6 linked regions of the Homo sapiens genome follow. The protein of the gene in region 2 interacts with the protein of the main gene of each other region in a pairwise test. Each region holds a gene or a part of one and is shown on either strand. Other genes may lie near its edges.

What was found.
Region 1: the proteins of SAXO4 (region 2) and ALS2CL interact in binary tests that used the Homo sapiens proteins (3 or more experiments, as listed by UniProt).
Region 3: the proteins of SAXO4 (region 2) and RIMBP3C interact in a two-hybrid assay, tested with the Homo sapiens proteins (one large-scale study listed by BioGRID).
Region 4: the proteins of SAXO4 (region 2) and KRTAP6-3 interact in a two-hybrid assay, tested with the Homo sapiens proteins (one large-scale study listed by BioGRID).
Region 5: the proteins of SAXO4 (region 2) and RFX6 interact in binary tests that used the Homo sapiens proteins (3 or more experiments, as listed by UniProt).
Region 6: the proteins of SAXO4 (region 2) and SLAIN1 interact in binary tests that used the Homo sapiens proteins (3 or more experiments, as listed by UniProt).

Annotation. Positions count from the first base shown.
Region 1 is NC_000003.12:46,686,530-46,691,428, reverse strand, and holds part of ALS2CL (ALS2 C-terminal-like protein), read left to right. Parts: intron 1-1,963; 5' UTR 1,964-1,988; coding exon 1,989-2,091; intron 2,092-3,132; coding exon 3,133-3,331; intron 3,332-3,744; coding exon 3,745-3,810; intron 3,811-4,280; coding exon 4,281-4,446; intron 4,447-4,899. UniProt on the Homo sapiens protein: Acts as a guanine nucleotide exchange factor (GEF) for Rab5 GTPase. Regulates the ALS2-mediated endosome dynamics.
Region 2 is NC_000011.10:61,487,162-61,492,060, reverse strand, and holds the end of SAXO4 (stabilizer of axonemal microtubules 4), read right to left. Parts: coding exon 4,821-4,899; intron 2,280-4,820; coding exon 2,115-2,279; intron 1,561-2,114; coding exon 1,491-1,560; 3' UTR 1,477-1,490; intron 1,248-1,476; 3' UTR 1,133-1,247; downstream 1-1,132.
Region 3 is NC_000022.11:21,548,157-21,553,520, forward strand, and holds the start of RIMBP3C (RIMS-binding protein 3C), read right to left. Parts: upstream 3,306-5,364; 5' UTR 2,821-3,305; coding exon 1-2,820. Other genes in the region: UBE2L3 (ubiquitin-conjugating enzyme E2 L3), read left to right, coding at 1,294-1,494.
Region 4 is NC_000021.9:30,590,363-30,594,159, reverse strand, and holds KRTAP6-3 (keratin-associated protein 6-3), read right to left. Parts: upstream 1,721-3,797; 5' UTR 1,694-1,720; coding exon 1,382-1,693; 3' UTR 1,105-1,381; downstream 1-1,104. Other genes in the region: KRTAP22-2 (keratin-associated protein 22-2), read left to right, coding at 3,786-3,797.
Region 5 is NC_000006.12:116,917,786-116,922,684, reverse strand, and holds part of RFX6 (DNA-binding protein RFX6), read right to left. Parts: intron 4,649-4,899; coding exon 4,599-4,648; intron 3,549-4,598; coding exon 3,389-3,548; intron 2,376-3,388; coding exon 2,231-2,375; intron 644-2,230; coding exon 534-643; intron 1-533. UniProt on the Homo sapiens protein: Transcription factor required to direct islet cell differentiation during endocrine pancreas development. Specifically required for the differentiation of 4 of the 5 islet cell types and for the production of insulin.
Region 6 is NC_000013.11:77,759,481-77,764,379, reverse strand, and holds the end of SLAIN1 (SLAIN motif-containing protein 1), read right to left. Parts: intron 3,553-4,899; coding exon 3,270-3,552; intron 1,236-3,269; coding exon 1,160-1,235; 3' UTR 151-1,159; downstream 1-150. UniProt on the Homo sapiens protein: Microtubule plus-end tracking protein that might be involved in the regulation of cytoplasmic microtubule dynamics, microtubule organization and microtubule elongation.

The sequences.
Region 1 (4,899 bases), on a different chromosome or scaffold from region 2:
GATGTTGGTGTTCAAGTCTTCCTAGCAGCGAGTTATTTACTGCAGTATCTTTTCAACGTGCACTGATCTGGTTCCTAGTCTGCATCTCCTATCCTAGCCTCACCCTTTCTTCTACCTTCCCAACCAGGCTTGGATATCCTCACCTCTTAGCTTAGACCCCAGCTGACTGCCAGCTGAGAGTGAAAAGGTCACCCCCAAAGCGCCTTTCCATTCCAGCAGTTTCGGGAGATACGGGTGAGAGTTAGGTGGGCCTGGCTGCACCCCTATTCCCTTGGCTGGGCTTTCCTTGTCTGCCTGAGCTGACCTGGAGCCCCCTGTGTCCTGGGGGCCTGGGTCTGCCTCAGGGGCCCACAGAGGGAGAAGAAGCTGCAGCACAGAAGCTGCAGCTGGGTGTCTGGTGGCTTCCCCTTCCTGCCTCTCTCTCTGCAGCCTCACCCTCTCGAAGCAGCAGTAGCAGGAAAGGTGGGGCAGGAATGCCTGGCCTGGGCCTTTGGCCAGAGCTCTGAGGGACCCGCCCCACTCCATTCCAGAGCCAATTCCCTGGGAGTTGTAGGCTCTGCCAGGGGCCTGGGATGCCCGCATGGCACTCTCGGGGCAGGGTGGAGAGGGGAGGGCTGAGACCCCTTCCCACTCACCCTTTTGGGTCTGCCTGTGTCACCTGCCCATCGTTGGCTGCCCTGATTTTGTCCCCTGCCCCACACAGGTTGGCTAACTCCAAAGCCTCAGCGTGTCAGAGACAAGGAGAGAGACAGTCTGCGGGTCTTGGGCTAAAAGACCCTCTAACTCTCCGCCCCAGATACCTGATCAGGTCATTTGGGCAGATGAACATTGCCAAGTGAGGGTACCAGGGTCTGGTAGGGGAGGGCTTTGTTGGAGTAGAGCCTGTAGCCTGGCTGTGGGGGTAGGTTTGAGCCCAGGCCTCTCTTCACCCCTCCCTTTAGGCAGGACACTGCATTCCCAGGTGATTCCTGCCTGATTGGAAGGTCCCTCACTCCAGGGCAGGAAATCTCAAGGCTCAAGCCCACCTGCCCACCCCAAGGGCCCCCACCCATCCAGCAGGCACCCCTTCAGGGTGGATGGTTGTGATCAGTGATCCCTCTGTCTGGTTAGGGGACCATGGAGGGTCCAGGCTCCCATCCACATTGAACTCTCTCTCACTGCCTGGCACTATCTCCTCTACAACTGTCATACATTTATTTCCCCAAATGTGACTTTGGATCCCATCATTACCTTGCTCTAAAGTCCTCCATGGCTGTCCACGGCCGACTGAGGCACAGTGAAGCTGTGGTCCTTTGGGGTGCTGCTTGGTGGGCTGCCCTCAGAGGCTGGGCCCTCACACCCATGAGCCTTTACTCTCAGGGTTCCTCCACTTGCCTGCTGGGTCCTGTCTTCCTTTTCATTTCTTGCCCATCATTCGTGGCTCTAGCAGGAGGCCTCCGGACTCCCCCATACCTCCAAAACTCTCCTTGCTTACACAGCCTGGTTGGGTGACAGGGAGTCCCGAACCATGGGCTAGAGGACAGGGCTGGGATCCTCTGACAGTATGACCCTGTTTATAGAGACTGCAGAATCCCTGAAGGGAGACTTGATGGAAAGGAGGCTAAGACCAGGGCACTACTAATACTATCCTGGGCACTTGGGATCCATGGTGGATATTTGAGCAGAGGAATGAGCAGGCCAAACTGGGCTTAAAGAACATCTACCCTTTGGGGAAGAAAGGGTTGCTTCCCTTGGCAGCTCTGAGCTCTCTCTCTCCTTCAGGGACCCCTCAGCTGGGCCTAGGCAGGGAGCAGGGCAGAGGTCAGTGGCCAGTCCAGGAACTCCCCTTTGAGGCGATCTGGGCTCACTGCTCAGTTCTGATGTGGGTGGTCATGGACCTTGCTTCTGGGCACCCTGCCTGAGAGGATGGGCACTGGCCTTGCTCCTGTCTGTGCTATCTAGCTGTAACCTGTGCCCTACCTAGGAGGCCCTGAGTCCGGCACCTGGCCATGTGCAACCCTGAGGAGGCAGCTCTGCTGCGGCTGGAGGAGGTCTTCTCAGCCACCCTCGCCCATGTCAACAGCCTTGTCCTCCAGCCCCTGCTCCCAGCCGGTGAGTCTAGGCTTTCTAGTGGGGAGGGAAGGGCACCGAGGAATGATCCCAGGGACAGGAGACCTACCTTGTTGGACTTGCTGAGCCACAGCTTTCTCAACCTCAAATAGGAGTGGTGACACCTGGTATCAGCATCTTCTGATGCAGGTGGTGCGATCTTGGCTCACTGCAACCTCTGCCTCCCAGGTTCAAGCGATTCTTGTGCCTCAGCCTTCTGAGTAGCTGGGATTACAGGTGCCTGCCACCACGCCTGGCTAATTTTCATATTTTTAGTGGAGACGGGTTTTACCATGTTGGCCAGGCTGGTCTCAAAGTCTTGACCTCAAATGATCTGCCCGCCTCAGCCTCTCAAATTGCTGGGATTATAGGCATGAGCCACTGCGCCAAGTCTGACTGCTCCTTTTTTAAAGGAACGCTGAGGGGCCAGGCCATGAACCTACCTGTAGCCCAGACCAGGCTGTACAAAGAGATGGAATTCCTCCTTTCCCAGGGTAAAAAACTGGAAACTGCCCTTTGCTTGAATTTTCATCTTGCTCCCACCTAGGGCACCTGATGGTGCCGGGAGGGGAACAAGACTGACTGGAACAGGATGCCTAGGTTTTACTTCCAGTTTAATTCTCACCTGTGAGGCCTTGGACAGGTGCCTCTGTGCATCTGTGAAATGGCAGAGGACTGTGTGACCCTGTGGACTTCACATTCTGGATCTGAGTAGTCCAGGATGAGGAGGCCCAGAGCCAGGGGGGAATTCGTGTATGTACTTAGTTCCCTGAGGCTGTCAGGGTTGTCCCTGTTTAGTGAGGAGTGGGTGTGTCTCCTGTTTCCTCCTCGAGGATACTGCCCACTGCTCCAGCCTGCCCTTCCCCTGCTCAGCTCTAGGGTTCACCAATTCTGTCCTGCGGATCCCAGGGATGCAGACCCTGCTGCAGCTCCAGGGCTGGCCGGTGCTGGTGGCTCTCATGTGAACACCTGGGGCCTGTGCATGTTCCCTGGGAGATGGAGCCCACGTCCTCTACTCACAGTGTGACTGTACTCCTTCCCCAGCCCCAGATCCCTCGGATCCCTGGGGCAGAGAGTGCCTGCGGCTCTTGCAACAGCTGCACAAGAGCTCCCAGCAACTCTGGGAGGTGACGGAGGAAAGCCTGCACTCACTGCAGGAGAGGCTGCGTTACCCGGACTCCACCGGTCTGGAGTCCCTGCTGCTGCTGCGAGGTGCTGACCGTGTACTGCAGGCCCACATAGAGTAAGACCACTGGAGGTGGGGCTGGGGCTCATCCCTGGTGTCAGAGTGACACCTGGCATTAAGGTTCACCTGGGGTTGGGGCTCACATGGGTCAGGGTTCAAGCAAAGGTTTGGGCTCAGTCCATGGTTGGTGCTCACCTGGGTTCAGCCTCACCTGGGCTTGGGTATTCGCCTGACAGCAGGCTCAGACACTCCAGACCTGAGGCTTGGGGCCTCTCAGGGAAGACAGACTGTATGTTAGAATTGTCTTGTTGGCCCAGGAGTTGAGGTCTCCAGTGCCCAGAGCCAGGCCACTGTGTGGGCCCTCAGGGCTGCAGCTGACTAGTGGGTGGGATCTGGGGATCCCAGGGACCAGGGGCTTAGGTCTGGGGCTGAGGACTGGGTTTGCAGGGTGTCCCCTGTGCTGCCTGCAGGTACATTGAGTCCTACACAAGCTGCATGGTGGTGCAGGCCTTCCAGAAGGCAGCAAAGAGGAGAAGGTGAGCACAGGGCTGGTGCACTGGCCCCTGACAGGGTGGGAGTGCCTGAGTGAGGGTGGGGTCGGGGAAGCCCCCTCCCCAGAGCAGCAGGTGTCACAGCCCACAACTCATCCTGGAGGACTCCTGGCTCTACAAATCTGCACTGATCCACACTGGAAGAGAAACAGGGAAGGCCCAGTGAGGCCAGGAACAGAATCCAGACCCGCTCTAGCTGGGCTGGCCTTGGGGCGGGGAAGGAGGGGAATCCCTTCAGGGTGGATGGTTGTGATCAGCAATCCCTTCATACTCTGAGATATTGCTCTTAAACCTGTGAGGGCAACTCAGGTACTGTGTTGATCTGATAGGGTAGAGGTTTTGGGCCTGGGGCTGGCCCTGGGATCTGAGGGGATTAGCTGGGGCAGGGAGGTGGCGGTGTGGGTGCAGGAATGGAGGAAGGGGTGAAGGTGGTGCGTGGCCCTCTCTACACGCAGCGAGTACTGGCGGGGCCAGCGGAAGGCGCTGCGGCAGCTGCTTTCAGGTGTGAGCTCAGAGGGCTCGGTGGGCGCATCGCTGGGCCAGGCCCTCCACCAGCCACTCGCCCATCACGTGCAACAGTACGTGCTCCTCCTGCTGAGCCTCGGGGACACCATTGGGGAGGTGGGTACCAGGGGCAGCAGCATGTGGGGAAGCCGAGGGAAGGGAGGGATAGGGCCCAGACTCAGGGGGCTCAGCCTATACTCAGGAACCCTAGTACAAGAAGGACTCAGCCATGCCGGCAGGTGGGAGAGGGTTGAGGAAGTCACAGGCCTGTCCTGTGGTTTTCAGGGGACATGGGGGACGTGGCCCAGCCCTGAGGAGGGGGTCCGAAGACATGGTTCTGTCCTAGGGAATCTTAGTGGGTGAAAGCACTGCCCTTCCCTGCGGTGTCTGAGGCACGTGGCCCTGCCCTGGTAGAGCCAGCAGAGACCCAGAGAGCAGGGGTAGAATCACGTCCTGGGAATGAGGACACGTGGGCCCAGGGCCAAGCTGGGGAAGCACCTTCATATTCCACCCCCTGCCCCACCAGCAGAAGAGGAGCTGTCAGGGAGAGAAGGGCAAGGTCTGGCCTAG
Region 2 (4,899 bases):
CTCCTCCTTACTATGGCCGTGGCTGGGGCCCAGCCCAGTCCCTTTGGAGACTCACTCCTAATGCTGGGGCATGGACTGGCAGGTCGCCACCCACGGTCTGGGCTGTCACTGGGTCCTGAGTCTGGCTCTGAGACTCTGTGTCTTCTGCTTCCCTCCTCTCATGCTGGGACCAGCTGGAGCCACCCACAGCCCACATGGAGCCCCAGCCGGGCTGTGGACAGCCCCCAGGCCTGCTGCTCAAGGCTGTGCTGGGTACAGCCAGGCTCTGGGGCCAGCAGTGCTGCTCCACAGACCCCCACTAAGGAACACAAGTGGAGGCAAGGGTTCGGAGGACACCCCCTCTGCATGCCCAGACAGGGCGGCAAGGCACGGGGGATATCCCCAACCCAGCGCTGCTCCTGCCTTTCTGCCCTGTGTGACCCCGAGCAGCTCACGCACCCTCCTGGGTTCACACTTCTCATTTATAAGGAGTTGGTGCTAGCAGGGCCACAGCATACAGTTGTAGTGTTGTGCACTGCACAAATGCACCTGGCTGAGGTGACAAAAGGTGCTGAGAGCTGGCCCAGATGCTGTCTTGCAGGCTGGGGGCCTGTGTCAGGCTGCAACATCTGGAGGAAGAGACGCCCTTCTCTTCCCACACAGGATGTTGGCTCATCAGGGCCTGCGCCCACCTGGGACATCCGCCTAAGGGGCAGCTTGTTCTCTTTCTCACAAACAGGTGACCTGCTCTGGTCACCTTGGCTGGGACGGAGACTGGCACCAGCCTTTGTGATCAAGCGCCCCCCACCCCCGTGTTGGTGTCCAGGTGGCCATGCATCCAAGACTCTCCTCTGTCCCCTTGCCCTGCGTCTGCTTCCCTCCCCTTCTCTGGACCACCTGCCCCTCCCCTGGGGTTCTTCCACCCACACTTGACCAAGCACTTTCCCAAGCAGCACAGGCCATAGAGGACCCCTTTACAGGACAAGAAACTGAGCGTGGAGAATGAAGTGCCTATCCATCGTGTCATGGTTCCTCAGAGGTTCCAGCCGAGCCCTTCCGACTCCAAATCTGGCCCTAGCTCCTCCACCCCTGCACCCACCGCCCCAGCTCACCCCTCCTTTTTCCAGCCACCCTGATAGTGATGTCACACTTCTCTGCTTCAATGCTCTTTATTTCATTAGGAAAGTAGCTGGGCAGGGGTGTTCCCCTGGGGGATGGAGTGGGGGTACAGACAGTAGCCTGGCTCCTGTCCCCTAGGATTGACAAACCTGTAGAGGAGAAGCAGAGGCGAGGCCTGAGCAAGGGGCTCTGGGGTGGTTCTGTGTGCTTGCCTGGCAGAGAAGGGGTTCTGAGAGGCCCCCTGATCTGTCACCCCCCACTTGGAAGGGGGGTCCCCAGGCAGGACTTGCTTAACCCAGGGCTTGAGAGGCAGGGCTGGCCCATAACGGTTGCCCACACAACCAGAGCAGCTGAGTGTGGGGATCCCCAGCCCCTTACCAAGGGCTCAGGGCTCAGCTGTGTGCCACGCAGCGGCTGCTGTGAGGTGTGTTCTGGTAGAAGGGGTCAGCTGAGGTCAGGGTTCTGCAGGGAGGCAAGAGGAGAGTGTTGGGGGTGTTGGCAGGCAGGGCATGGACCTTGTCTTCTTGTCTTCTGCCTGACCCTCCCTGAGAGAGCATAGCCAGGGTTCAGCCAGGGCAGCCAAGCCACAAACATTCTTTGCCTGCCAACTCTGGGCCATTGTTGATATAAATGTAATTTCTGAGGAATTGAATTGAGCAGAAAGGAGCTGAGTGAGGCCGAACCACAGTCCATTCATCTCTGGATCCGTCCCCGCATCCCCCTCTGGATCTGAACCACCCCAGAGCCCCTTGCTCAGATCCTCCCCATCCAGTCCACCGGGCCTGGGGAACAGGGGCAGGAGAGGGAGGAGGAGCCATCTGAGGGAGGGGTCACTGGAAGGAGAGGAGGGGAGGAGCCTGTGCTAGCAGGAGAAGGGACACCAGAGCCAGCCAGAGGAGATGGGCCTCTCATAGGAATGAACCGGACTGACAGCAAGAGAGGAGAGGAAGGGAAAGGCCTGGCACACGGCCTGGATGAGGGGTAGGGAGAAAGAACAGAGCTGGGGGTGGTGCCACCTTCCCACGTGGGGATGCAGGTGCCGCAGGCTCTCCATGGGGTTGGGGGTGGCCTCCATGCAGCTGACCGGCTGGCTGAGGGCGTAGCCTCCTGGCATCTGGGGCTGGATGCCACCTCGAGTCCAGCCTTCCTGGTCTAGACCCTTGGGGATGTTCTCAAAGTACCTGGAGGAGAGGAGGGGTCCTTGGCTGGAAGCTGGACTCTGCCCACCTCTGCAACCCCTGCTGCCCTTCTCCATCGACCCTCAGATCGCCCAGCCTCCCCACCTTTGCTCATGCTGTCCTCGTCTAGCTCTCCCTAAGCCCACGTCCACTGGGGGAACTCTTACTCAAAAAGCCTGCCCTCCCCTCCACCTGACGCTGAAACACTCTTTGGAGTGTTAAAGGACAGTTTCAGTGATGCCCCTGTCCCTGGCCTGCCAGTACCTTGGGGTGGGGACCCCGTCTCATCCACTTCTCTAGGCACTTAACTTTCCTTCCATTTCATTTCCATTTCCTTCCATTTCACTGAGCACAGCCAGGTCCAGAGGGTGCAAAGACAAGTAAGAAGGGGGTCCCACCCTTGAACTTATGAAGAGGGGGTGCAGACAGATCAATGCAGGAATCAGTGATGACAATCCCGGGGCTCTGCGCGCACCAGGAAGCACCAGCAAGCGTGCCTGACAGCCAGCAGGAGCTCAGGACACAACAGGACACGACAGGCTGGAAGGACCCAGCAGACAGGACTGGAGCTGGTCTCTGCCAGAGCCACAGGAGGAGGTGTTTGCCTAAGAAGGGGTCAGAACATCGTTGCCCCTCCCCCACCTCCGTGGGAACTGGAGCGGCCACTGTGCTGAGTCTGCTGTGCGGGCGGAAGCTCTGCTCCTCCCCTCTGAGCCTCAGGGTTTAGGCCAGAGGACAACAAACGGCCCTTCCAGCTCAGACTCTCTGTTGCTCCTCCAGGACACCGCCCTCCCCTCTTTTCAGTCTCAGTTCAAACGTCACCTGCTCAAGGCCACCGATTTCAAATCCGACCCGTGCGCACTGCAGCCCTCGCGATCCCTTTCTCTTTGCGCATTACCTAACAGCTCTCGCTAACTGGCTGCAGCCACATGCATGTCTCCTCCCATGCAGAGGTCTGAGCTCCGTAGGGCAGGAGCTGCACACACATTCCCAGGGCCTGGAGCAGGGCTTGGCACCCAGTCAGGGCTCAGTTAAAGTCTATTCCATGAATGGATTCTGGGAGGTATCCCGGAGCAGGGGGTGGGGCAGGGGGAGGAGACAGAGAGGTGGCAGGGACACCTTGAAGGACCAGGAGTTGGAGAGGAAGCAGGGTGGACACAGGTGACTGATGTTGTGAGGAAAGCTTGCGCTTCCTGGCTCGGAGTTTGTCCTAAGAATTATACTTCCTGGAGGCGGGCAGATCACGAGGTCAGGAGATCAAGACCATCCTGGCTAACACAGTGAAACCCTGTCTCTACTAAAAATACAAAAATGTAGCCGGGCGTGGTGGCAGGCGCCTGTAGTCCCAGCTACTCGGGAGGCTGAGGCAGGAGAATGGCGTGAACCCGGGAGGCGGGGTTTGCAGTGAGCCGAGATCGCACCACTGCACTCCAGCCTGGACGACAGAGAGAGACTCCATCTTAAAAAAAAAAAAAAAAAAAAAGGAATTGTACTTCTTGGCAGGACACGGTGGCTCATGCCTGTTATCCCAGCACTTTGGGAGGCCAAAGCAGGCAGATCACTTGAGGTCAGGAGTTCAAGACCAGCCGGGCCAACATGGCGAAACCCCATCTCTACTAAAAATACAAAAATTAGCTGGGCATGGTGGCACATGCCTGTAATCCCAGCTATTTAGGAGGGTGAGACAGGAGGATCACTTGAACCCATGAGGCGAAGGTTGCGGTGAGCTGAGATCACGCCATTGCACTCCAGCCTGGGCGACAGAGTGAAACTCCATCTCAAAAAAAAAAAAAAAAGAAGAAGAAGAATTACACTTCCTTTATACCACTCCTATAATGCTTTCCCCACCCAGTCCTGGCCCCAGGAGGCTTCCCCATGGCTCTGGGGCCACCTCCTTCCTGGAAGCCCTCCCTGATGCCCAGGACAGTCACTCCTAACCCAGGGAATGCACAGCACAGAATTTACCTTCTGAGGGAGCATCGAGCCCACCAACCATTGGCTGGATGGAATGTCTTAGCAGATGCTGCTGCTCCAGACTCCCTCGCACTGCCCTGTTCTTTCCATGCCCACCAGCCTGGCCACCAATGCCCTGCATCTCTGTGGGAAAGCTACCCTTGGGATGCTAGAAGCTGCTTTGCCTGAGCAAGGAGGCACCTGGGCTTTAATGTTGCCCTGGGGATAGCCTTTAACCAATGACCGATGGATGTGGGGGTATAAATACCCCAGCTCTCTCACCTTTGACTGGGGTAGTTCTGAGTTGTGTGCTTTACACTGTTTTCTAGAGTTTTCCCAGTGGGATAGCTGGCCTAGTAACATGCTCATTATTGCTGCCTTCCCTCCCTCATCCCTCTTCTCCACTCCCACACGCCTAATAACTGCCTGATAACATGCTTGCACTCCAATCCTTGGCTTAGGGTATGCTTCTGGGGAACCCATATTCACTCAGCATTGATCTTCTCCACGAGGCTGTGAGCTCATTACTTATCCCAGTCTCAGTCTGTTTCTCAAATGGGTTTCAGCTTTGGACCAGGAAGCGGACCTCACCCTTGGTTGTAGGTGGTCAGGTATCGCTGATCCCTGTCAGGATCACAGGGGCTCCGGACATACATGGGGTTGTTAAGGC
Region 3 (5,364 bases), on a different chromosome or scaffold from region 2:
CACCATTCCCTGGGCTTTCCCAGATAATAAGCTGTCTTCCTCCAGAGCTTCATCCTGCCCCGCTGGGAGTTGACTGGGGCCAAGATCAGGGGATTTGGCAGGCAGGCAGCCTGGGATGTAGCTGTCCGGAATCTGCTCCACGAAGTTGGAGGGCACCAGCCCCCGCCGGCCATCGTCAAGCTCCCCCTCATAGAAGCCATCCTCATCCATGTCCCCGAAGATATATATGTAGTCCCCAGCTGTGAGGGGCAGCTCACCCTCAGGGTGATCATTGGGCCCCTCAAATGGGTTGTAGTTATACTGAGCCATGAAGATCTTGAGCTTGGGGGCAGCAGGAGCCGCCGAGCCCCCCATTTCCAGGGCCAGGGACACGCTGTCAGGCTCCAGGTCATCCACCTCACTGGCTGTGTCCCTGTCCAGAGTAGGGGAGGACGGCACGGTGGCCCACATCGACCCCTCAGAGGAGGAGTTTGACTGGGAGCTGGTTTTCTTGGACAGAGGTTGGCTGGCAGGGACTGTCTCTGAAACTTGGGGGACACTGGCTGACTCCCCAAGGGCAACTGGGCTCTCCTCGAGGGAGGCTTCCCTTTTCTCCTGTATGTCTCTGTTGGGCTGTGACACTGCGTAGTCTTCAGGCCGTGCGTGGAACTTGGGCCTTCTGCTACCTTTAACTTGGGACTCCGGCATTTGACTGGTCTCCCAGGGCTGTTCAGGAGGGTGACCAGGCCGACACTGGAGCGCCTGTATCTCCTTCCAGGAAGGATGGAGGTCACACAGGGCCTTCTGCGGGTCGCGTTGCAGCTGCTGCTGCCTGTCCTGCCCGCGCGCCGCCTGCTGCAGCAGCTGTTCGGCGATCAAGCCGGAGGCATCGCGCTCTTGACACGCGCGGCCCAGGTGGCCGCGCACTTCGCTATTCTCAGCCTCCACCTTCCGCACCCAGTCGGTCTTGGCCTGCAGCCGCCCATTCTCCTCCGCCAGCCAGGCGTTTTTGAGCAGCGCCGCCTGCAGCTGTGTCTCGGCCTCCTCGCCACGTCGCCGCGCCGGGGCCGCCTGCGTGCCCAGCTCCTGGCACTCGCGCCGCCGCTGGTCCAGCTCGCGCTCCAGCGCCAGCATCTGCCGTCGCACCTCCTCGCAGGTTGCGCTCTGGCCGCCCGCCTCGGGCCAAGCGCCACCGTTGCCCTGCTGAAGCATCAACTGCCTCTGCAGGCGCAGCACTTCCCGCTGGGACTCGCGCTGCAGGCGGTCTAAGTCTCTGACGTTGAGCCACTGGGTGCAGGGGCCGCCCCTTCCAGTATGCAGGTCGCTGCAGGGACCCGAGGCGACACGCGCCTGCAGGAGGTGGCACTCCTGCCGCAGCTCTTCGATCTGCTTGTCCTTGGCCAGCGGCGCGCTCGCCTGCTCCGACAGGTCCCGAGCGCGCTGGCGGGCAAAGACTTGGCACAGCTCCAGGCCGGCGCAACTCTCGCCGGGTATAGGCGCGCTCACGGCCCGGAGGTTGGTCTCCTGCAGCTCGCGGGCGCGGTCAGCTAGGCGCCGCGCGAGCCCGGTCAGCTCCGCGCGCTTTACCTTGAGCCGCTTCACCTTCTCGTCTGCCTGGTAGGGGCAGCCTGCACGCCGCAGCTGCTTGTTCTCCTCTTGCAGGGTATAACAGCGGCGCGCCAGCACCCACAACGCCTTGGCCAGCAGCCAGTTCAGCTTTATCAGCTCGTGGTGGCCCAGGCCCGGGGGTGAGGGAGTCAGGACTTCGCAGGGCTGGCTCTCAGAGCCTTCTCCTCCCCGCGGGTTGCTGAGTTTCCTGTGGGCTGACGGTGGTGGTGGCGGCGGGAGTGGCGATGGTGGCGGCGAGAGCCTCCGGGAGCCAGGGGTGGAGGTGTCTGGTGAGGAGGGCCGCTCCTCGGATTTGGAGGCCTTGGGGAGGCTCCGGGTGCTGTCAAGCGAGCGGGAACACGCAGGTGCGAAGCAATCAAGGGAGCTGGCGTGCGTGGAGAGCAGGCCGTCTGGGGAGCTGGAGCACGCAGAGGACACCAGGCCTAGCGAGCGGGAGCGCACACCGACTTCAGCACTCAGGCTGTCTAGAGATCCGAGTTGGCAGGCGGGTTTGGGGGCGTGGCAAGAGCCGCTGGAGGTCTGGGGCAGCGGTTCTTCCAAGGAATGCACAGCTTGGGGGTCCGGTGATCCCGACAAAGCCGGGTGCCCGCGGAAGTGCGCCAGGATGTACTTGAGGAAGAGCTGGCGCTCCACCTCCAGCGCCGCCTGCAGATAGCGGATGCGCGCCGCCTGCTCGCCGTCAGTCTGCCAGCGAAGCTGCGCCAACACTTCCTGCAGGCGACAGCGGCACTGCGCCGCGGAAACCTCGGACGCCCCCGGGCGGCTACAGTGGCCGCGGTTCACCAGCTCCTCGGCCAGCTGGCGCTGCAGCTCCCGGGCTTGGCGCACCACGCCATCGCGCTCCCGGTGCAGCAGCTGCTGCAGCTGCCGCTGCTCGGCCTCCTTCCAGCGCAGCAGCTGCCGGATCTCGGCCTCGCGTTCCCGCTGCATCTCCTCTTGCAGCTGCCGCAACTCCCGGCTGCGCTGTGCCTCCCACTTGGAGCGCAGACGGTCAGCCAGCTGCCGCCGCTCCCGCTCGGCCTCCTCACGCAGCTGGCGCTCCCGGGCAGCGAAGCGCCGCCGTTCCGCCCGCCAGCCTGCCCGCTCCGCCTCCAGCTCCGCCCGTAGCTTCTCCAGCTCCCGCCTCTGGTTCTCCAGCACTGCCGCCGCCGGGCTGGAGCAGCCCGGCTTCTTGGGCGACGCGCCCAAGGGGCTGGGCGAGTCCTTGGCCATTGCGGCCGCGGCCCGGCTGGTCTCCAGACTTCGCCTGGCAGGCCTCAGCTCGCCAACGGCCGCCGCCGACCGCCCGGCGCGCCCCTTCCGGCGCCCCCTGGGGGTCTCCGCGTGCCCCTTCCGCCTCTTGGCATGTTCCCCCGCCTCCTGCCGCGGATGTCTGGCCCAGGCGCCTCTCCACCTGGCAAGGCCAGGGCTGGACTCCCACACCCCTGCTCAAACTGGCCCATGTCCCTTCCAGGATGCACGGGGGCTTTTCCGGTCCCTACACTTTTCCTGCTTCTAGCACCAAGTCCCTTGTGACCCTCCCCAGGCACCCTCCCAGGCACTGTGCAGTCCCAAGCAGGCCGCGGTGCCCCGAGGGAAGTCTGGGCTGCTGCTCCTGTACTTGGAGAAAGGGGCAGGGTGTGTGTGTTAAGGCCACCCATGGGGTGTGGGCATACCTGGTCGTGGGTTCAGGTGGTGTATTTGGGTCAGGTGGCTGGAAAATGCAGCAGGATAGGCCTCAACTTGGCTAGACCTGGACTCCCCAGGACCCTTCAGCCCCCTAACAGCCCTGATCACCCAACTGGTCATCCACCTTTTGAGGAAAGGATGTGCCTGATACACATTTGTGTTACTGCGCAGAGTCGGCTCAGAGGAGGTGTAAGCGAAAAGACCCTCCCCAGCAAGGTGGCATAGGGACCCAGGGCCAGATAGGCATGGGGGCACTGCCCAAACTGGCCATCTGGCCTGTCTACCTCCCACATCCAGGTACCACCTGGTGACAAACACTGGAGCCCCAGTGTCTGGGCTACTCATTGGCATCTTAGGTAGAGGCCTCAGGATGGGCCAGGAGTGAGGGTGAGGCTTCAGCAGAAATGTTGGAGGCATCCTGAGCTGCAGAAGAAACACACACACACACACACACACAGCTGCAGAAGAAACATACACACACACACATACTGAGCTGAAGGAATACACACATACACTGAGCTGCAGAAGAAACATACATACACACACTGAACTGAAGAAATACACACACACACACACACACACACACACACACACACACACACACACACTGCCTCTCTGACTGGTGGCCACCTGTGTGGCTTGGGAGCTAAGAAGCCCTGCTTCAGTCTGGCTCCTCTTTGCCCTTCCTGTCTGCTCCTGGTGCCAAGTGGCTTTTTGGAGACATGGATGGACACCTGATACCTGGCAGTCTGCATCGAGACATTGATTTTGTTTTTTGAGATGGGGCCTCACTCTGTCGCCAGGCTGGAGTGCAGTGGCGCAATCTTGGCTCATTGCAACCTCTACCTTCCACGTTCAAGAGATTCTCCTGCCTCAGCCTCCCAAGTAGCTGGGATTACAGGCTTGAGCCACCATGCCCAGCTAATTTTTTGTACTTTTTAGTAGAGACAGGGTTTCAGTATGTTGGCCAGGATGGTCTTGAACTTCTGACCTCAAGTGATCCACCCGCCTCGGCCTCTTAAAGTGCTGCGATTACAGGCATGAGCCACTGTGCCCGACAAGACCTTGATATTGAAGTCACATCAGAGGCCCCTTTGCTTCTTGGTCTGTCGTGTCTCCCTGTCCCCAGGAAGCACCTGGGACCTCTCACAACTGCTGTGTTCACTCAGCTTATGGCCCTCCTTTACAACACTCAAGTTTTTCAAATCAGTTTCCCCGGAACCCACAGAACATGCCTTTAGGCAGTGTCAAGTAACAAGAACATCGGGAATTATGGCTCCAGATGTTCTTTTTTTTTTTTTTTTTTTTTGAGATGGAGTCTCGCTCTGTCGCCCAGGCTGGAATGCAGTGGCGCAATCTCTGCTCACTGCAAGCTCCGCCTCCTGAGTTCACGCCATTCTCCTGCCTCAGCCTCTCAAGTAGCTGGGACTACAGGTGCCCGCCACCACGCCTGGCTAATTTTTTTTGTATTTTCAGTAGAGATGGGGTTTCACCATGTTAACCAGGATGGTCTTGATCTCCTGACCCTGTTGATCTGCCCGCCTCGGCCTCACAAAGTGCTGGGATTACAGGCGTGAGCCACCGCGCATGGCCCTTTATTTTATTTTATTTTATTTTATTTTATTTTATTTTATTTTTGAGACAGAGTTTTGCTCTGTCACCAGGCTGGCATGCAGTGGCACGATTTCGGCTCACTGCAACCTCCGACTCCCTCGTTCAAGTGATTCTCCTGCCTCAGCCTCCTGAGTAGCTGGGATTACAGGCATGCGCCACCACGCCCAGCTAATTTTTGTATTTTTAATAGAGACAGGGTTTCATCATGTTGGCCAGGATGATTTCGATCTCCTGACCTTGTGATCCGCCCACTTTGGCCTCCCAAAATGGTGGGATTACAGGCGTGAGCCACCGTGCCCAGCCCAGATGTTCTTTATGAGAGGTGAGGCAGATGTAGTGTGTATGTGAGAGGAAGGGGAGGTGAGATGCAGGGATGGCCTTAGCCTTGAACTGGTGCTGGGCTCCTGGACATGGTAGCCACAGGGAGGACTATCTTGAGAGAATCTTCATCACAGCCCTGTTTTACGGAAGAGA
Region 4 (3,797 bases), on a different chromosome or scaffold from region 2:
CTAAAGTGCTTCTGCACAGCAAAAGAAACTGTCTACAGAGTAAACATATAGCTACAGAATGGGAGGAATTATTTACAAACTCTGCATCCAACAAAAGTCTAATATCCAGAATCCATAGGGATCCTAAGCAAATCAACAAGCAAAAACCAAATAACCCCTTTAAACATGGGCAAAAGGCATGAGCAGGCACTTCTCAAAAGACTATAAAATCAGCCAACAAATATATTTTTATATATTTGTTATATACAACAAATACATATATAAATTATATATGTGTTACATATATATTTGTCATATATTTGTTATATATAACAAATATATATGTTAATGCATAACATTAGTGACCAGTCAAAATAGTTACTATTAAAAAAGTCAAAAACTAAAACGTGTTGGTGAGGTTGTGGAGAAAAGAGAATGCTTATACACTGGTGATGAGAATATTAAATTATTCCAGTCACTCTGGAAAGCATCTGGAGATTTCTCAAAGAACTTAAAGCAGAACTACCATTTGACCCAGCAATCCCATTACTGGGTATATACCCAAAGAAAAAAAAATTGTTCTACCAAAAAGAAACATGCACTTGTCTGTTCATCGCTGTGCTATTCACAAGAGCAAAGACATGGAATCAACCCAGATGTCTAACAATAGTTGACAAAAGATAATGTGTTTCATGTGCACCATGGAATACTATGTAGCCACAACAAAGAGTGGAAATCATATTCTTTGCAGCACCATGGATGCAGCTGGAGGTGATTATCCTAAGCACATTAATGCAGGAACAGAAAATCAAATACCACAGGTTTTCACTTATAAGTAGGAGCTAAAAATTGAGTGCACATGTATATAAACATGAAAGCAATAGACACTGGGACTCTTGGAGTGGGGATGGTGGGGGGTGGTAAGGGTTGAAAAACTACCTTTCACATATTACCTCAGTGGCATGCAATTCACCCATGTAACAAATATACACATATAACCCTTGAACCTAAAATAAGAGTTGAAAAAAATAACGATAAAAGCAAAAAATCAAAGAAAAAAATTTTGGACAATAAATAAGATACAAACACCAAGATTTCTCTTGTGGATTAAATGTGTTTATTAGGTCAGCAGAGAAACAAACTACAGCATGAAAGTCATCAAAGGAGTCACTGTGACACCATCATCCTGATAAAAGGAGAAGTGACAGGTGAACTTCACCTTATCCCACTTCATGATGGAAACTCAGGGTATTTTTGGGTTAGATGGTAGATCAACAACAGATCATATTAGACTTCCACTGCAGGATATCATCAATCAAGGGAAAGGCTCAGAGCATGTGGGCTTCAGAATTGGTGAATTGCAATGTCACAGGATAGAGGGTGAGAGTCTCCCATGGTGTCCTCAATAGTAGTAGCCAAAGCTGGAGCCATAGCCAGAGCCGCACCTATAGCCACAGCCACAGAAGGAGTGGGAGACATAGCCATAGCCACAGCCATAGCCACAGTCCAGGCCTCTGTAGCCACAGCCACAGAAGGAGCCATAGCCACAGCCCAGGCCTCCATAGCCACAGTCCAGGCCTCCATAGCCAAAGCCCAGGCCTCCGTAGCCACAGCACCCATAGCCACAGCCGCCATAACCACAGCCCAGGCCTCCGTAGCCACAGCACCCATAGCCATGGCCACCATTGTAGTTTCTGTAGTAGCTGCCACACATGGTGTTGGTTGTTGAGGTCATCCTTGGGTAGGAAGGAGTGTAGGTGACTTCAGTATGGACACTTCTCCGCAGAGGGCCTTTTATATGCCTCAGTGAATCAGAACATAGCGTGCCCCTGCAAAAATATCTCTAAAGGCCTTTCATTGTGCTGAGAAGTTCTGGCCCTTACGTATCTCTCTGATTTCATATCCTGCTACTCTCCTCCATTTATCTATAATGCTCAAACTCTGCTGGCTTTTTGTCTTTTAAAATGCAGCAGGTTTCTTCTCACAATAAGGCCCTGGCCTCTGCACTTACTGATTTCTCTTTCTTAAAATAATACCAGGAATATTTGACTCATTTTCTATTTCAATTGAAATGTTCACTTCCCAGAGAGACTTTTAATGGCCACCTTATATTAATTAGTCTACCTCCAGTAACTGAACTTAATGTAACTCACTGAGTTTTATTATTCTCACAGGATTCTTCACTGTTAGAATCTATTTCATTCATTTTTAAAATCAGTCTCTCTATCCCTTCTGTCTCATTGTAACCTGCAGAAAGTAGAGACTTTGTCTATTTTGTTCATCTGCTCAATCTGCATTTCTTATAACGGTGCCTGATACAGCAGATTCTTAATAAAGATTTGATGAATTAGTGAAAAAATAACCAAATGAATGACATGATGCAACTTTCTATACTCAAATTCTGTGTAGAATAATCACAATCTTTGTTCTATGCTTGGGGTAACTGGGGATAAATTCATGTACTCTGGGATCCTTTTGGATCATATGCAAACCAGTGGAGGAATTTATCATGGTGATTTTTTTCTGGTTTGAGAATCCATGCCTTTTCCGATTGTTAAGGTGGTGGTATATATCCACTAAAGTTTATGAACTACTGTGTGCAGTTCCGAAATTCTGACTAAATGTTCTACTTGCCTCTTATTGATATGATACTTTGCCAGTCTCACATTGATCTACAAAGTATGATCCCTAGGTTGATCATTGGTAGTTCTGCTACATTTAAGAGTAGCAAATGAATTAATATGTACTATTATTTGTTTATATTTTATTCTAATTGCTTTATCATAATAAATGACTAATAATTCATTAATAATATTTAATAAGTGGATGGAATAAACGTGACAAATTATCACAGGGAGCTTCATAGAAAGTCAGCTCTCATAATTAAGGCTATCACCAGAATGCATTTGGGCCAGAAATGTGGTTTGCTGATGTTATTCTATCCAAGTCACCACTTTAAAAAATAGTAACAGGAATTCTGCTAGAAGATGAAAAGTATTTTTACAATACTTTTGGAAATTTGGAATTAATATATTTTAAAATAAGCAAATTCATTAAATATAAAAAGAAGGTAAAATATGTGAATATTATGTGTCAGGAGAGGAAAACATGAATTTTGAGATACGGTGGGTAATTGTTTCTAATTGCTTTCTCAGATGCAAAGAGAACACCACAACTAATAATATAACCAAAGTGAGGATGATGGAAGAGAAAAAACTTTACTACTCCAAGAACATAAGCTACATATGAACTTGGAAGAAAATTTTTAGTCCCATTGATTAAGAAATAAATTAGTCAAAACATACAGGCATATTTGCAAGTAAATAAAGACATTTTCATCGGCTTCCTCACTGCATAGCCAACCTTCCCTAACCATTCCTGGCCACTCTGTGGTTTAAGGACTGCATTTATGGAGGTAGAGGAGGATATTGAAAAAGAAAAAAGAAATGTTTCAAGAGGCAGGAAATATAAGCTTAATGTGATCACAGAGAAGCTAATCATCAAGTTTAAATTGGGATTTTAAGTAAGCAAAAGCCACAAAATTAAGAGAATATCTCCTTAAGGCTCATGATTTTACTTGTTGGCATCCTGACACATAGCAATATTAATATTTTCCTGGACATATGGCTAAGAGATTCTTGAGGGTTTTTTTAATCTTAATGCAAATTAGTTGTGAGAATGAGTCCAATGTAGATTGTGGTTTCCTTCACATATAACTCAGGTTGGATAAAATAATTTGTACAAATCAGGAGAGTCAAATTTCAGAAACTACTATCTGCCTCAATTGAACTCCATCTTCTGACACCATGTGCTACTAC
Region 5 (4,899 bases), on a different chromosome or scaffold from region 2:
GTCTCCTTGATATGGAATGGCCAACACCAACTAGTGATGGATATATTTGTTCTTATTGCTTGTTTCACAATGGGTGACTAGGTTAACCAAAGAAGGTGAAGAAACCACAGAGAAAACACAAAATATTGAGCTTTTGGAATTCAGAAATGCAAATGCTTAGAACCATGTTTTCCATCAGCATTTATGAAATCTTGCTTTTTAGAAACGGGCCAGATCATTCCAGTTTCTAAGTTTATCTTTCTCTACTGATGTTACTCAGCTGTAATGTTATTGACTGATAGGGAAGGCAGAGCATCTTGTAGTCTTTCGGCAAGAAAGGAGAAATATAATGGAATCCATGCCCAATGCTCTCAAATCTTGACATATTCCTAATTTCAGTATTTGGCCTGCCTTATTCGTAGAGCATCAAAAGCTTTTCAAAGCCTTTACACACACAGCCTTCCACCCCTCTCCCCCCAGACAAAAAATTATAGCCAGTTTAGCATTTACTCTTTACAAGGAACTTATTTTCTGAATCTGTCATTAAAAAGTACCTTAATAACTCTCTGTTCTACCACAGTATCCAACCATTCAATAAAAGCCTCCACAGTGGCATTCTTCTTAAGGAGATCCTTCAGTTCTTGGAACACAGTGATAGAGTCATCTACCCAGGAAAAAAAAAAAAAAGAAAGAAAAGAAAACAGAATATTGTACTCTACTTGGAATCCAAGAGAAAACCTAAAACTTGGAATCATCAATACTTTGATAGCATGAAAGGGAAAGACAGATAAATGTGTGAAAAGAATTAATATCATATCTTGAAAACAGTAACAAAAAAATCCTTAGTACTGTACTCTTCAATGGTGTGTGTGTGAGAGAGAGAGAGACAGGATCTTGCTTTGTTGCCCAGGCTGGAGTGCAATGACGTGATCATGGCTTACTGCAGCCTCAAACTCCTGGGCTCAAGTGACCCTCCTGCCTCAGCCTCCCAAGCAGTTGGGACTCCAGGCACGCACCAACAAGCCTGCCTAAATTAAAAAAAAAAAAAAATTATAGAGCAAGGTCTTGCTGTGTTGCCCAGGCTGGCCTTGAACTCCTGGGATCAAGCAATCTTCCCACCTCAGCCTCTTGAAGTGTGCCCGAAATTTTAATAAGTGTATATATCTTGGTATATATTGAAATATAGGTTTAAATCTTATATGTGTATTCACATACTAGGGAAGATTAAGTTGTTTATGTAGTTAAATATTCATTTTGAGTCTAGTGTTTTCATTAAACGGAACAGATTAGTTAAAAGTGAATGAATGAACCTAAGCTTGGTGATTTCCTGCTTTCCAAAATATCTTTTATCTTTAGTAAAAGTTAATTTCTTCTCAGCAGAATTGAGCCATTTACCTGAATAACGTTTTATCATGTAATATTTAAAAGGGCAGTTTAAGACTATCCTTTTATTAAAGGTTTTAAGGTTTACTGAATCTCAAAAGGTAATCCTATTTTATGTTAGGAAATAAAAAGTGGAGTTGAGATTGGGCCCCAGAGAGCAGTCCATAGTTTGTGCTCCAGTGTATAGGAGGCTGCAGGTTTTGTCTTTTCAAAGACAGAGGGAGGAAAAAATAGTGGCTGTTATCCCTTGAAATTCAAGCCTAGTTGTCTAGCCATGCATATTGGCTTGGTAAGCTCTCTCAGATGGTCCAAACCTGAGTAGAGAGTCTGCTTTGAAAAGCAGTATTGTGCTGAGATACCATTTTGATATTTATCACACACCACAGGATGACAAGACTATAAAACACATGTAAATTTCTATACATGTAATGTAAAACTGAAAGAAAACTTACAAAACTCAAAACAATTTGATTATTTTCAGATTATTTCCATTTCATTTATTTCTAGGTAATGAAATTACAGATGACTTTTATTTTCCTCAATATTTTCTATCTTTTCCATGGTGAGTAATTATAACTATTTTTTATTAGAAGATAAATTTTTTTAATTAAAAATATTTTTATAAACCAGGTTTTTTTTCAATCAGATGTGATTTTTCAGCCCAGAACACCTTTGACAATGTGGGGAAACATTTTTGGTTGTCTCAGCTTGGGGGAGGCTGCTACTGTCATCTAATGGGTAAAGGTCAAGGATGCTGCTAAACATCCTACAGCACACTGGACAGGCTCCTCCAACAGAGTTACCCAGCTCAAGATGTCAATTTTCTGAGCTTAGAAAACCTTGTTCTAAACAAAGAGAATGGACTTACGTTCAGTGTAGATACCAGATTCAGTGTCTGTGCTGCCTGAAATGGTAAGAAGGGCTTGAGAGCCAATGCTGTTCAAATCAACCCTTTCAATATCAGACACCATAGAATTAACGACATGCTGGTCAAAGAGAGCTGGTCTGGCAATCTGCATAGAGAAAGTAAAGAAGACACTACACTATATCATTTCTAATGTATCTAGAAGAAATTTTTAGCTATCAGAAAAATAGTTCCTTGAGATAAAAGTATCATAAATAACTTTTTTCTTATTTTAAAGACAAAAGCAGTAGCTGAGACTCATGATCATCTCTGTTAAAAGTCTGAAAATTATAGGAGATACACCTAATGTAAATGATGAGTTAATGGGTGCAACACACCAACAGGGCACATGTATACATATGTAACAAACCTGCACGATGTGCACATGTACCCTAAAACTTAAAGTATAATAAAAAATAGAAAAAGAAAATATAAATGGATTCTCTTTGTCCATGATCACAAAATAAGAATTTTTAAATGTTACATTTCCTATCTGAAATCATCTCAAGCTTGTCTTTTAAAATTTAGAAGGCAAGAAACCTTCATAAAGCAGATAATCATTTTGGGGAAAGAGAAATATATTTTAACAATATACAAATGCATCATTCTTAACTTATGAATTACTTTTGCTCTATTTAAAAGAGCCATGATTAGTCGGCAGTTTAAAATGTGTTGAGTTTGTGGTTTCACAATATTAAGTATCACACAGGCTTACTTCTCACAACCTTAATTTGTACCAATTAGATTCACATGGCAAATAAATGTTTAATTGCATTCAAGTTTTTTAAATTTCCAATCACAGAGAAGTTGCAAAGATAGTGCAGAATATTTCCATATACTCTCCATCCAGCTTCTTATCATCTTCTGTAACTATTGTATATTACCCAAATTATGAAATTAACATTGGTACAATACTATTAACTACAGACATAATTCAAATTTCACCAGCTTTCCCACTAATGTGCTTTTTCTATCATAGCATTCACTTCTGGGTCTCACGTTGCATTTAGTTGTTGTCTACTTAGCTCCCTTCAATCTATGAAAGTTCCTCAATCTGTCCTTCTCAGAAGATTCATTTTTTATATGGTGACTCAAATGCTCTCGACTTAGCAACCAACATACCTGGGCAAGATGTAAGAAAGATGTTTGTCGTTTCAGAGAAGATACAAATCTTCGCACAATAGGTATTTTCTTGTCAGTTAGAGCTTCTGGCAAGTTTTCCAAGGATGAAACAACCCACTGTTCCCAATTTTTAGCAAAATTTCTTATGTCTGCTAATAAGCTACAAAGAAGGCTATGTGTTAAATGCTTCATTGTTAAAAAATGCATTAAACAATCATATTTTAATTGAGGTATACTATTATTCTATGGTTTCATAAGCAGTACTTTTGAAGTCAGACAGCCTAGATCTGCCATTTATCATCTTTTCTTATGCTATATTTTTAAAATGTTTGTGGGTGCATAGGAGGTGTATATATTTATGGGGTACATGAGATGTTTTGTTATCATCTTGGTCAAAACACTCAAGCTCTTCAAACTCCACTTCAAGTACCCAATTCAGAGTACAGAATAGATATTTAAAGACTACAATTGATAATTAAAAGACATTATTGATCAGGCTAATACCAACTATCATATAGATGAAATAATCTGGAGGAAAAGGTAAATAAAAAGTAAAATTTGTTTTACCAAGCAACATCTATTTTTGGAGCACCAACTATGTCCAGTCCTATATGAATTTGTACCCCCAAAATACTAAAATAAATTTTATCATTTCATTAGATTTTGTTTTCAGAGAAAAAGTTGGCTTTTTTTTTTCAGAATTCTATTGTTCTTATATTGAAAAGGTTTTTTTTTTTTGAAAAATCTTCTGGTATTGTTTCAATAAACTATTTGAGATTTTATTCCTTTGTTAAAAGAAGGCAGTAATTTCATCATGCCACTTTCTGATTTTGTAATTAAGACAAAAGTTAATAATAAAATACAATAATTTCTCCTATAGTTTTTATTCTTGTGGTTATTTTCCATTAATTATCTTTTTTATCATACTCCAGCTAGTTTCCATTGAAAAATTTCTCGAAGATCAACAGTGCTTAAATCTATTTTTCACTTTAGCCGCTCTCAAATTAAAGGGATTGAAGGATTGTTTCACCCATTTTGTTTATTGAGGCCCAGCTATAAGACACATCTCTTCCAGCAAATACAAAGGGACAAAAGTAGAAAATAGTCTTCTTGATAAATGAATAAATTACTACCTAATGTTTTCTTCTAATATAATGTATAAAGTTAAATCCTATACTAGGAATGCTCATGTTTTATTAACTGAACATACCTTTCAGGCATTTCTTGCATTGTTGCAGGAATGAGTACATCTGTAAGAACCTTAATCATAGCAAAAGAGGTTAATACAAATCTTTACTTAGTATTTCTATAGAAAGACATATTATTGGTCAACTACTTTTTATTCCTAGCTTCCTAGAGAATAACATGTTAACTCCTTTCTCAAAGTTATAATTTTATCTCCAAAATGAATGTATGTATGAGTTGTGTGTGAGTGTGTATGACAATAAAAACAAGAGATAGCACTGTATATGTACATGCTCAGTATGTTAATTACCAATGGATTGGTCCAT
Region 6 (4,899 bases), on a different chromosome or scaffold from region 2:
TAATTTTACAAATGTGAATATTCTAAGTCTACCTGCTTGAGATATAAATGCCCTGCACAAGAACAGAGTAACAATAAGCATTTTCACAATTGTAGTGAAACACATGTGTAGTTACACTGTTTATGCTGTACATTCATGCATGACCTGATATTGCTGAAATAGAGTCTTTATTTCTGAACATTCCAAAACAGCAGTGTACACAGTAACAAATATTAAGTTATATGCCATAAGAAAGCATTCATTAGTGCAAATGGATTTTGTAAAAGGTCTATCAAAAAGATTTATTTGCTTTAAAATGCATTCATTTCCAGAAGCATTGTTAATAAAACATTACAGTTTCATCCTTCGTAATAAAGTATTGAAAATCAATTGTGGTACAGTAGCAAACATTGCAGGTATTAAGTGCAATGAGCTCATGATGCCGTTATAAATATGAAACCCATGTATGACAATAAATTAAAAATGAAAAAGACAGGACCATTTAATTCTGCTGTCTGGTTATCTCCTTGCAATGCTTCAAATTATGTTGTGCTCATTCAACACAAAATTATGTGTCTCAAATTGCATGATGTGTTTTTGCTGATATATCCCTAGAGCTAAAAAAATAGTACCTTACCACAAAAATATTTTTATGGCACAAAATTTAAGTTGTTCCATAGTGGTTCACATAGGTGTAAAAAGAAATAGGCACAAAAAATAAAATTCCTGTAAACTATAAAAAAGTAAATTTCAAAGCATACATTATAGAACCTAGTTGTCAATATGCAATGTATTAAAATACAGAACATGTAATGGAAAGATGTTTAGAACACGTGAGTAAATTGAACAAGTTACTTTAAAAAACTCATATGGCAAAGCATTATTGATACATCTTAATTCTCTCAAAAAGTATTCAGGTACAGAGCAGTTCTACAAAAACTTCCTAGATCTAAGTGTCACAATACTGCAACCATGGGTTTGAGAATGTTGCAGTATCTCAGGCAAATATTTAAGTGCAATAATTAGTCTCTGGTGACTGGTCCATTGAGAAACAATGCAGTAAATATATTAAAACACAAAAGGGAAAGAATATCCCAACATCCACTGCTACCCAGCCAGCTAGGTAACACAACCCTCATTTTTACTTCTTTCCCATTTTTCAAGGGTACATAAAACTGCATTAGTAGCAACCATCTCTCCAATTTCCATCCCTCAGAGTGCTGAGTGAAGACAGAGGCTTTGGAGGCTGAAGAAAACTAAAAAGAGACAAGAAAAACAGAGAGAGAGATTGTTAATAATCCTATGAGTCACATCACTCACTTTGACCTACTCTCCCATCTATGTTCTTCCACTGCAGTAATGAGAAGCCACTGGCACCATCTCAAGTGTACCTTGTGGTTCACACTTACGGGTCTTCACTGCATGCTTATCTCCCAGAGCCCCAGTTCATGGCAAAGTGTCATGCATGTTGTATTTGCACAAGAAAATTTGCAACATAAATAAAGGGGCCAATACCCTTAATGTATAAAACATATTTTAAAATAAGAAAAATATAGGATCCTGGCTAGAAAAATGACCTAAAAACATAAATGGTTACTCTGTTGAATACAAACAGCAAATGAATATGAAGACATTTTCAAAACCTTATTAGTAATTGAAGATTTGCCTATCATATTCGCAAAACATTTAAAAAGAATCTTTGGCTGAGTGCAGTGGCTCACATCTATAATCCCAACACTTTGGGAGGCCGAGGCAGGAGGAAAACTTGAGGCCAGGAATTCAAGACCAGCTTGGGCAACATAGCAAGACCTTGTCTCTACAATTTTTTTTTCAAATTATCTGGGAGTGGTGATATGCACTGTAGTCCTAGCAAGGCAGGAGGATCACTTGAGCCCAGGAGTTTGAGGTTACAACAAGCTACAACCATAACACTGCACTCCAGCCTGGGCAAAAGAGCAAGACCCTGTCTCTAAAAAGAATAGATAAAATAAAAAATTTAAATTTAAAACAATTAAAAAGAATAATACCTAGCATTTGCTTAAGTTTGGGGAAATAGACCATCTCACATTGTCTAGCAGTGACCTTTCCAAGAGTTTAGTTTGGAGACACATAGTCAAGGATAAATGTATGGTCTACAATAACCATATACATCAAATAATGTGATTCTAGTCAGCCATCAGCATGATGACACAGCTCTGCATTTACAAAGCAGAATAAGCCAAAACTTACTGAATAAATAAACATGTACCAAAATTATTTCTATCTGGCAGTAGGATTATGGGTCAGTCTTTACTTTTCTATTTTTCAATAGTTTCTGTTTTTCGAAATTTGTTGTTGATCTGAGCATCTATTACTTCTAAACAAACAAAACAAAATAAAACTATTTATATATCCATAAATGCATAAAGACAGAAAAAAATTGCTTGTTCCACCTCTTTCAAACTTTTTACTATGGTTTTCTCCTTCTCCTTCATATCCTAATTTCTTGAAAGAGCTGTCTGTATTTATTGTCTTTATTTCCTCATCTACCAATCTCTCCTCAAACCACTTTTATGGATTTTTAATATAAGATACTCCATGATATCCAGTTCAAGAAGGGAACATCATGACCAAGAGCTAGACTAAATGTCCTTTGAAGTACTCTGAAACTTTGAAGGGAAAAAAAAAAAATTACTACCTGGACCATACTGAACTTACCAACATAAGCTGATAAAGCCCCAGGTGAATGTCATTAAGATGCTTTTCAAACCATAAATGTGTGGGAGGAGGGTGTGCGTGTGCACATACGCCTGACACATTTTTCCATATTTTGATTAAAAATGACTGATTCAACAAATATTTGAGATCCTACCTGTATTGGGCATAGTTCTTGGCATCGGGGATACACAGCAATGAACCAAAAAGTCAACCTCCCCCCGCCCTACAATTTTTGGATAGAGCTGCCATCTGAGCAAAGACCTGAGGGAGGCACAGAGCAAGCCATGCAAATAACTTGGGAGCAGAAAGCTACAAAAGCTCTGGAGACAGAGCTTATCTGGTAAAAGCAAAAGCAAAGAGCGTCTTAGGAGTGATAGTGATGAGGGAGTAAGGGAAGAAAATGACATCAGAGAGAAGGGGACCTGACCCACACAGGGATATCCATCACTTTTCAAAGGGAGGAGAGCACAAGTCAGGCCATAAAGGGTAGTGTCTTACTAAGGTTAAAGTGAGCCAAAGGAAAAGTCAGCGTGTGTCTGGAGCAGTTTCTAGTTCCAAACTGCAAATGAAGTTACGCAAATACACATTCTTACCTTCTAACAGGTTGTGCAATTTTGCTTCGAGGCAGGTTACTCCCATTTATTGCCAACGAAGGTCTTGGGAGTGCACTGCGACCCATTATCCCAGAAGCTGCAGCTTTGTTCGGTGTGGGGATTCCTGTGTTGGAATACAGCTGTAAGCCGTTTGATAAAGGCATGTTACTGCTGCCTTGAACGGTTGGACTCACATAGGCTGTGGCTTTAAGAGGCTGTCGGATAGACACTGGGAAATGCCCCACGCTGTGGACCCTGTGTTGAAGCTGTCCCGGTGATGGAACTAGAAGAGAAAATGATATTCATGTGAGCAACCTTCTACCACTATCCGACTTAGGAAATGTGTGTTATTTTCAGAAGAGTCCATTATGCCTGAGAGTACAATATACACAGGAGGAGAAAAACAGAATATAGGTTCCAGACAGCACTGAGAAATGGAAAATTCTAATCCTTGACAAAGATCTCCTGGTCTGTCCATCAGCCACATTTTGGAGTGCCTGGCTATATGCAGAAGCCAGTTCTAAGCACAGCCTCCTTTCCTTTACAAATGTGATGATGTCTGAGTTCTCACAAGAGAAAGTCTTCCCCGTTTGCTTGCTAGACATTAGGATTTCTTGATGCTTGCTTTGGTGGTGGTTCCAAGAAAATAAAATGAGGAGATACTTTAATAGTTGTAATTACAGAAAAGAAGACAAGGTGGTATCTGTAGGTACAAACAGTTTATTACAGATATATTCCTTAAATAATATTCATTATGTCATTTATCTATCTGAGTTGCTGGGCATTATTACATTTATAATAGTAGCAAAACCTATAAAATGAAGGGCACTGGGAACTCTCTGGATAAGAACCCTTAAAAATTTCATCAATATACTGATCCAACTTTGTGTATCATTTCACATTAAAAGTAACAAACTGGTAGGCAGAAGTTTTTAAATTTTTTAATCCCTTTCTCCAAGGAAAACAATCAAATTTAATAGAAACTTATGCACAGAATTCTGCTTACATACTAACTACCCAAGCCTTTGATGCCTAGTACTGGCAACATGGTTAAACATGGACATACCCTGTTTTCTAAAACAGTTGAATTTACTTAATCATGAAATATATAAATACTTTTTTGAAATAAATATAAGGGGGAAAAAGACCCAAAAAAGTATCTATGGTTTTATTTATCATCTCTTGAAAATATTTCCTTAAAAATAGTTTTTCCTTAAATTTTTTTTCCTTAAAAAATGTGTTTAATTATACAAGGCAAAATCTATACACAGAAATACTGATACATGTGCTATCAAAAAGATAACACATCATGATCAAGCAGGTTTCATCCCAGGGATATAGAAATGGTTTAACATAGGCCAATCAGTAAATGTGGTACATCACATAAACAGAATTAAAAACCAAAACTATATGATCATCTCAACAGATACAAAAAAGCATTTGATAAAATCCAGCATCCCTTTATGATAAAAACCCTCAACAAAACAGGCATACAAGGGACTTACTTCAAAGTAATAAAAGCGATATATGACAAACCCATAGTCAACATCATATTGAACGAGGAAAAGTTGAAAGCATTCCCCCTGAGAAATGGAACAAAACGTCCTTCACAACAATGTCCACTTTCACC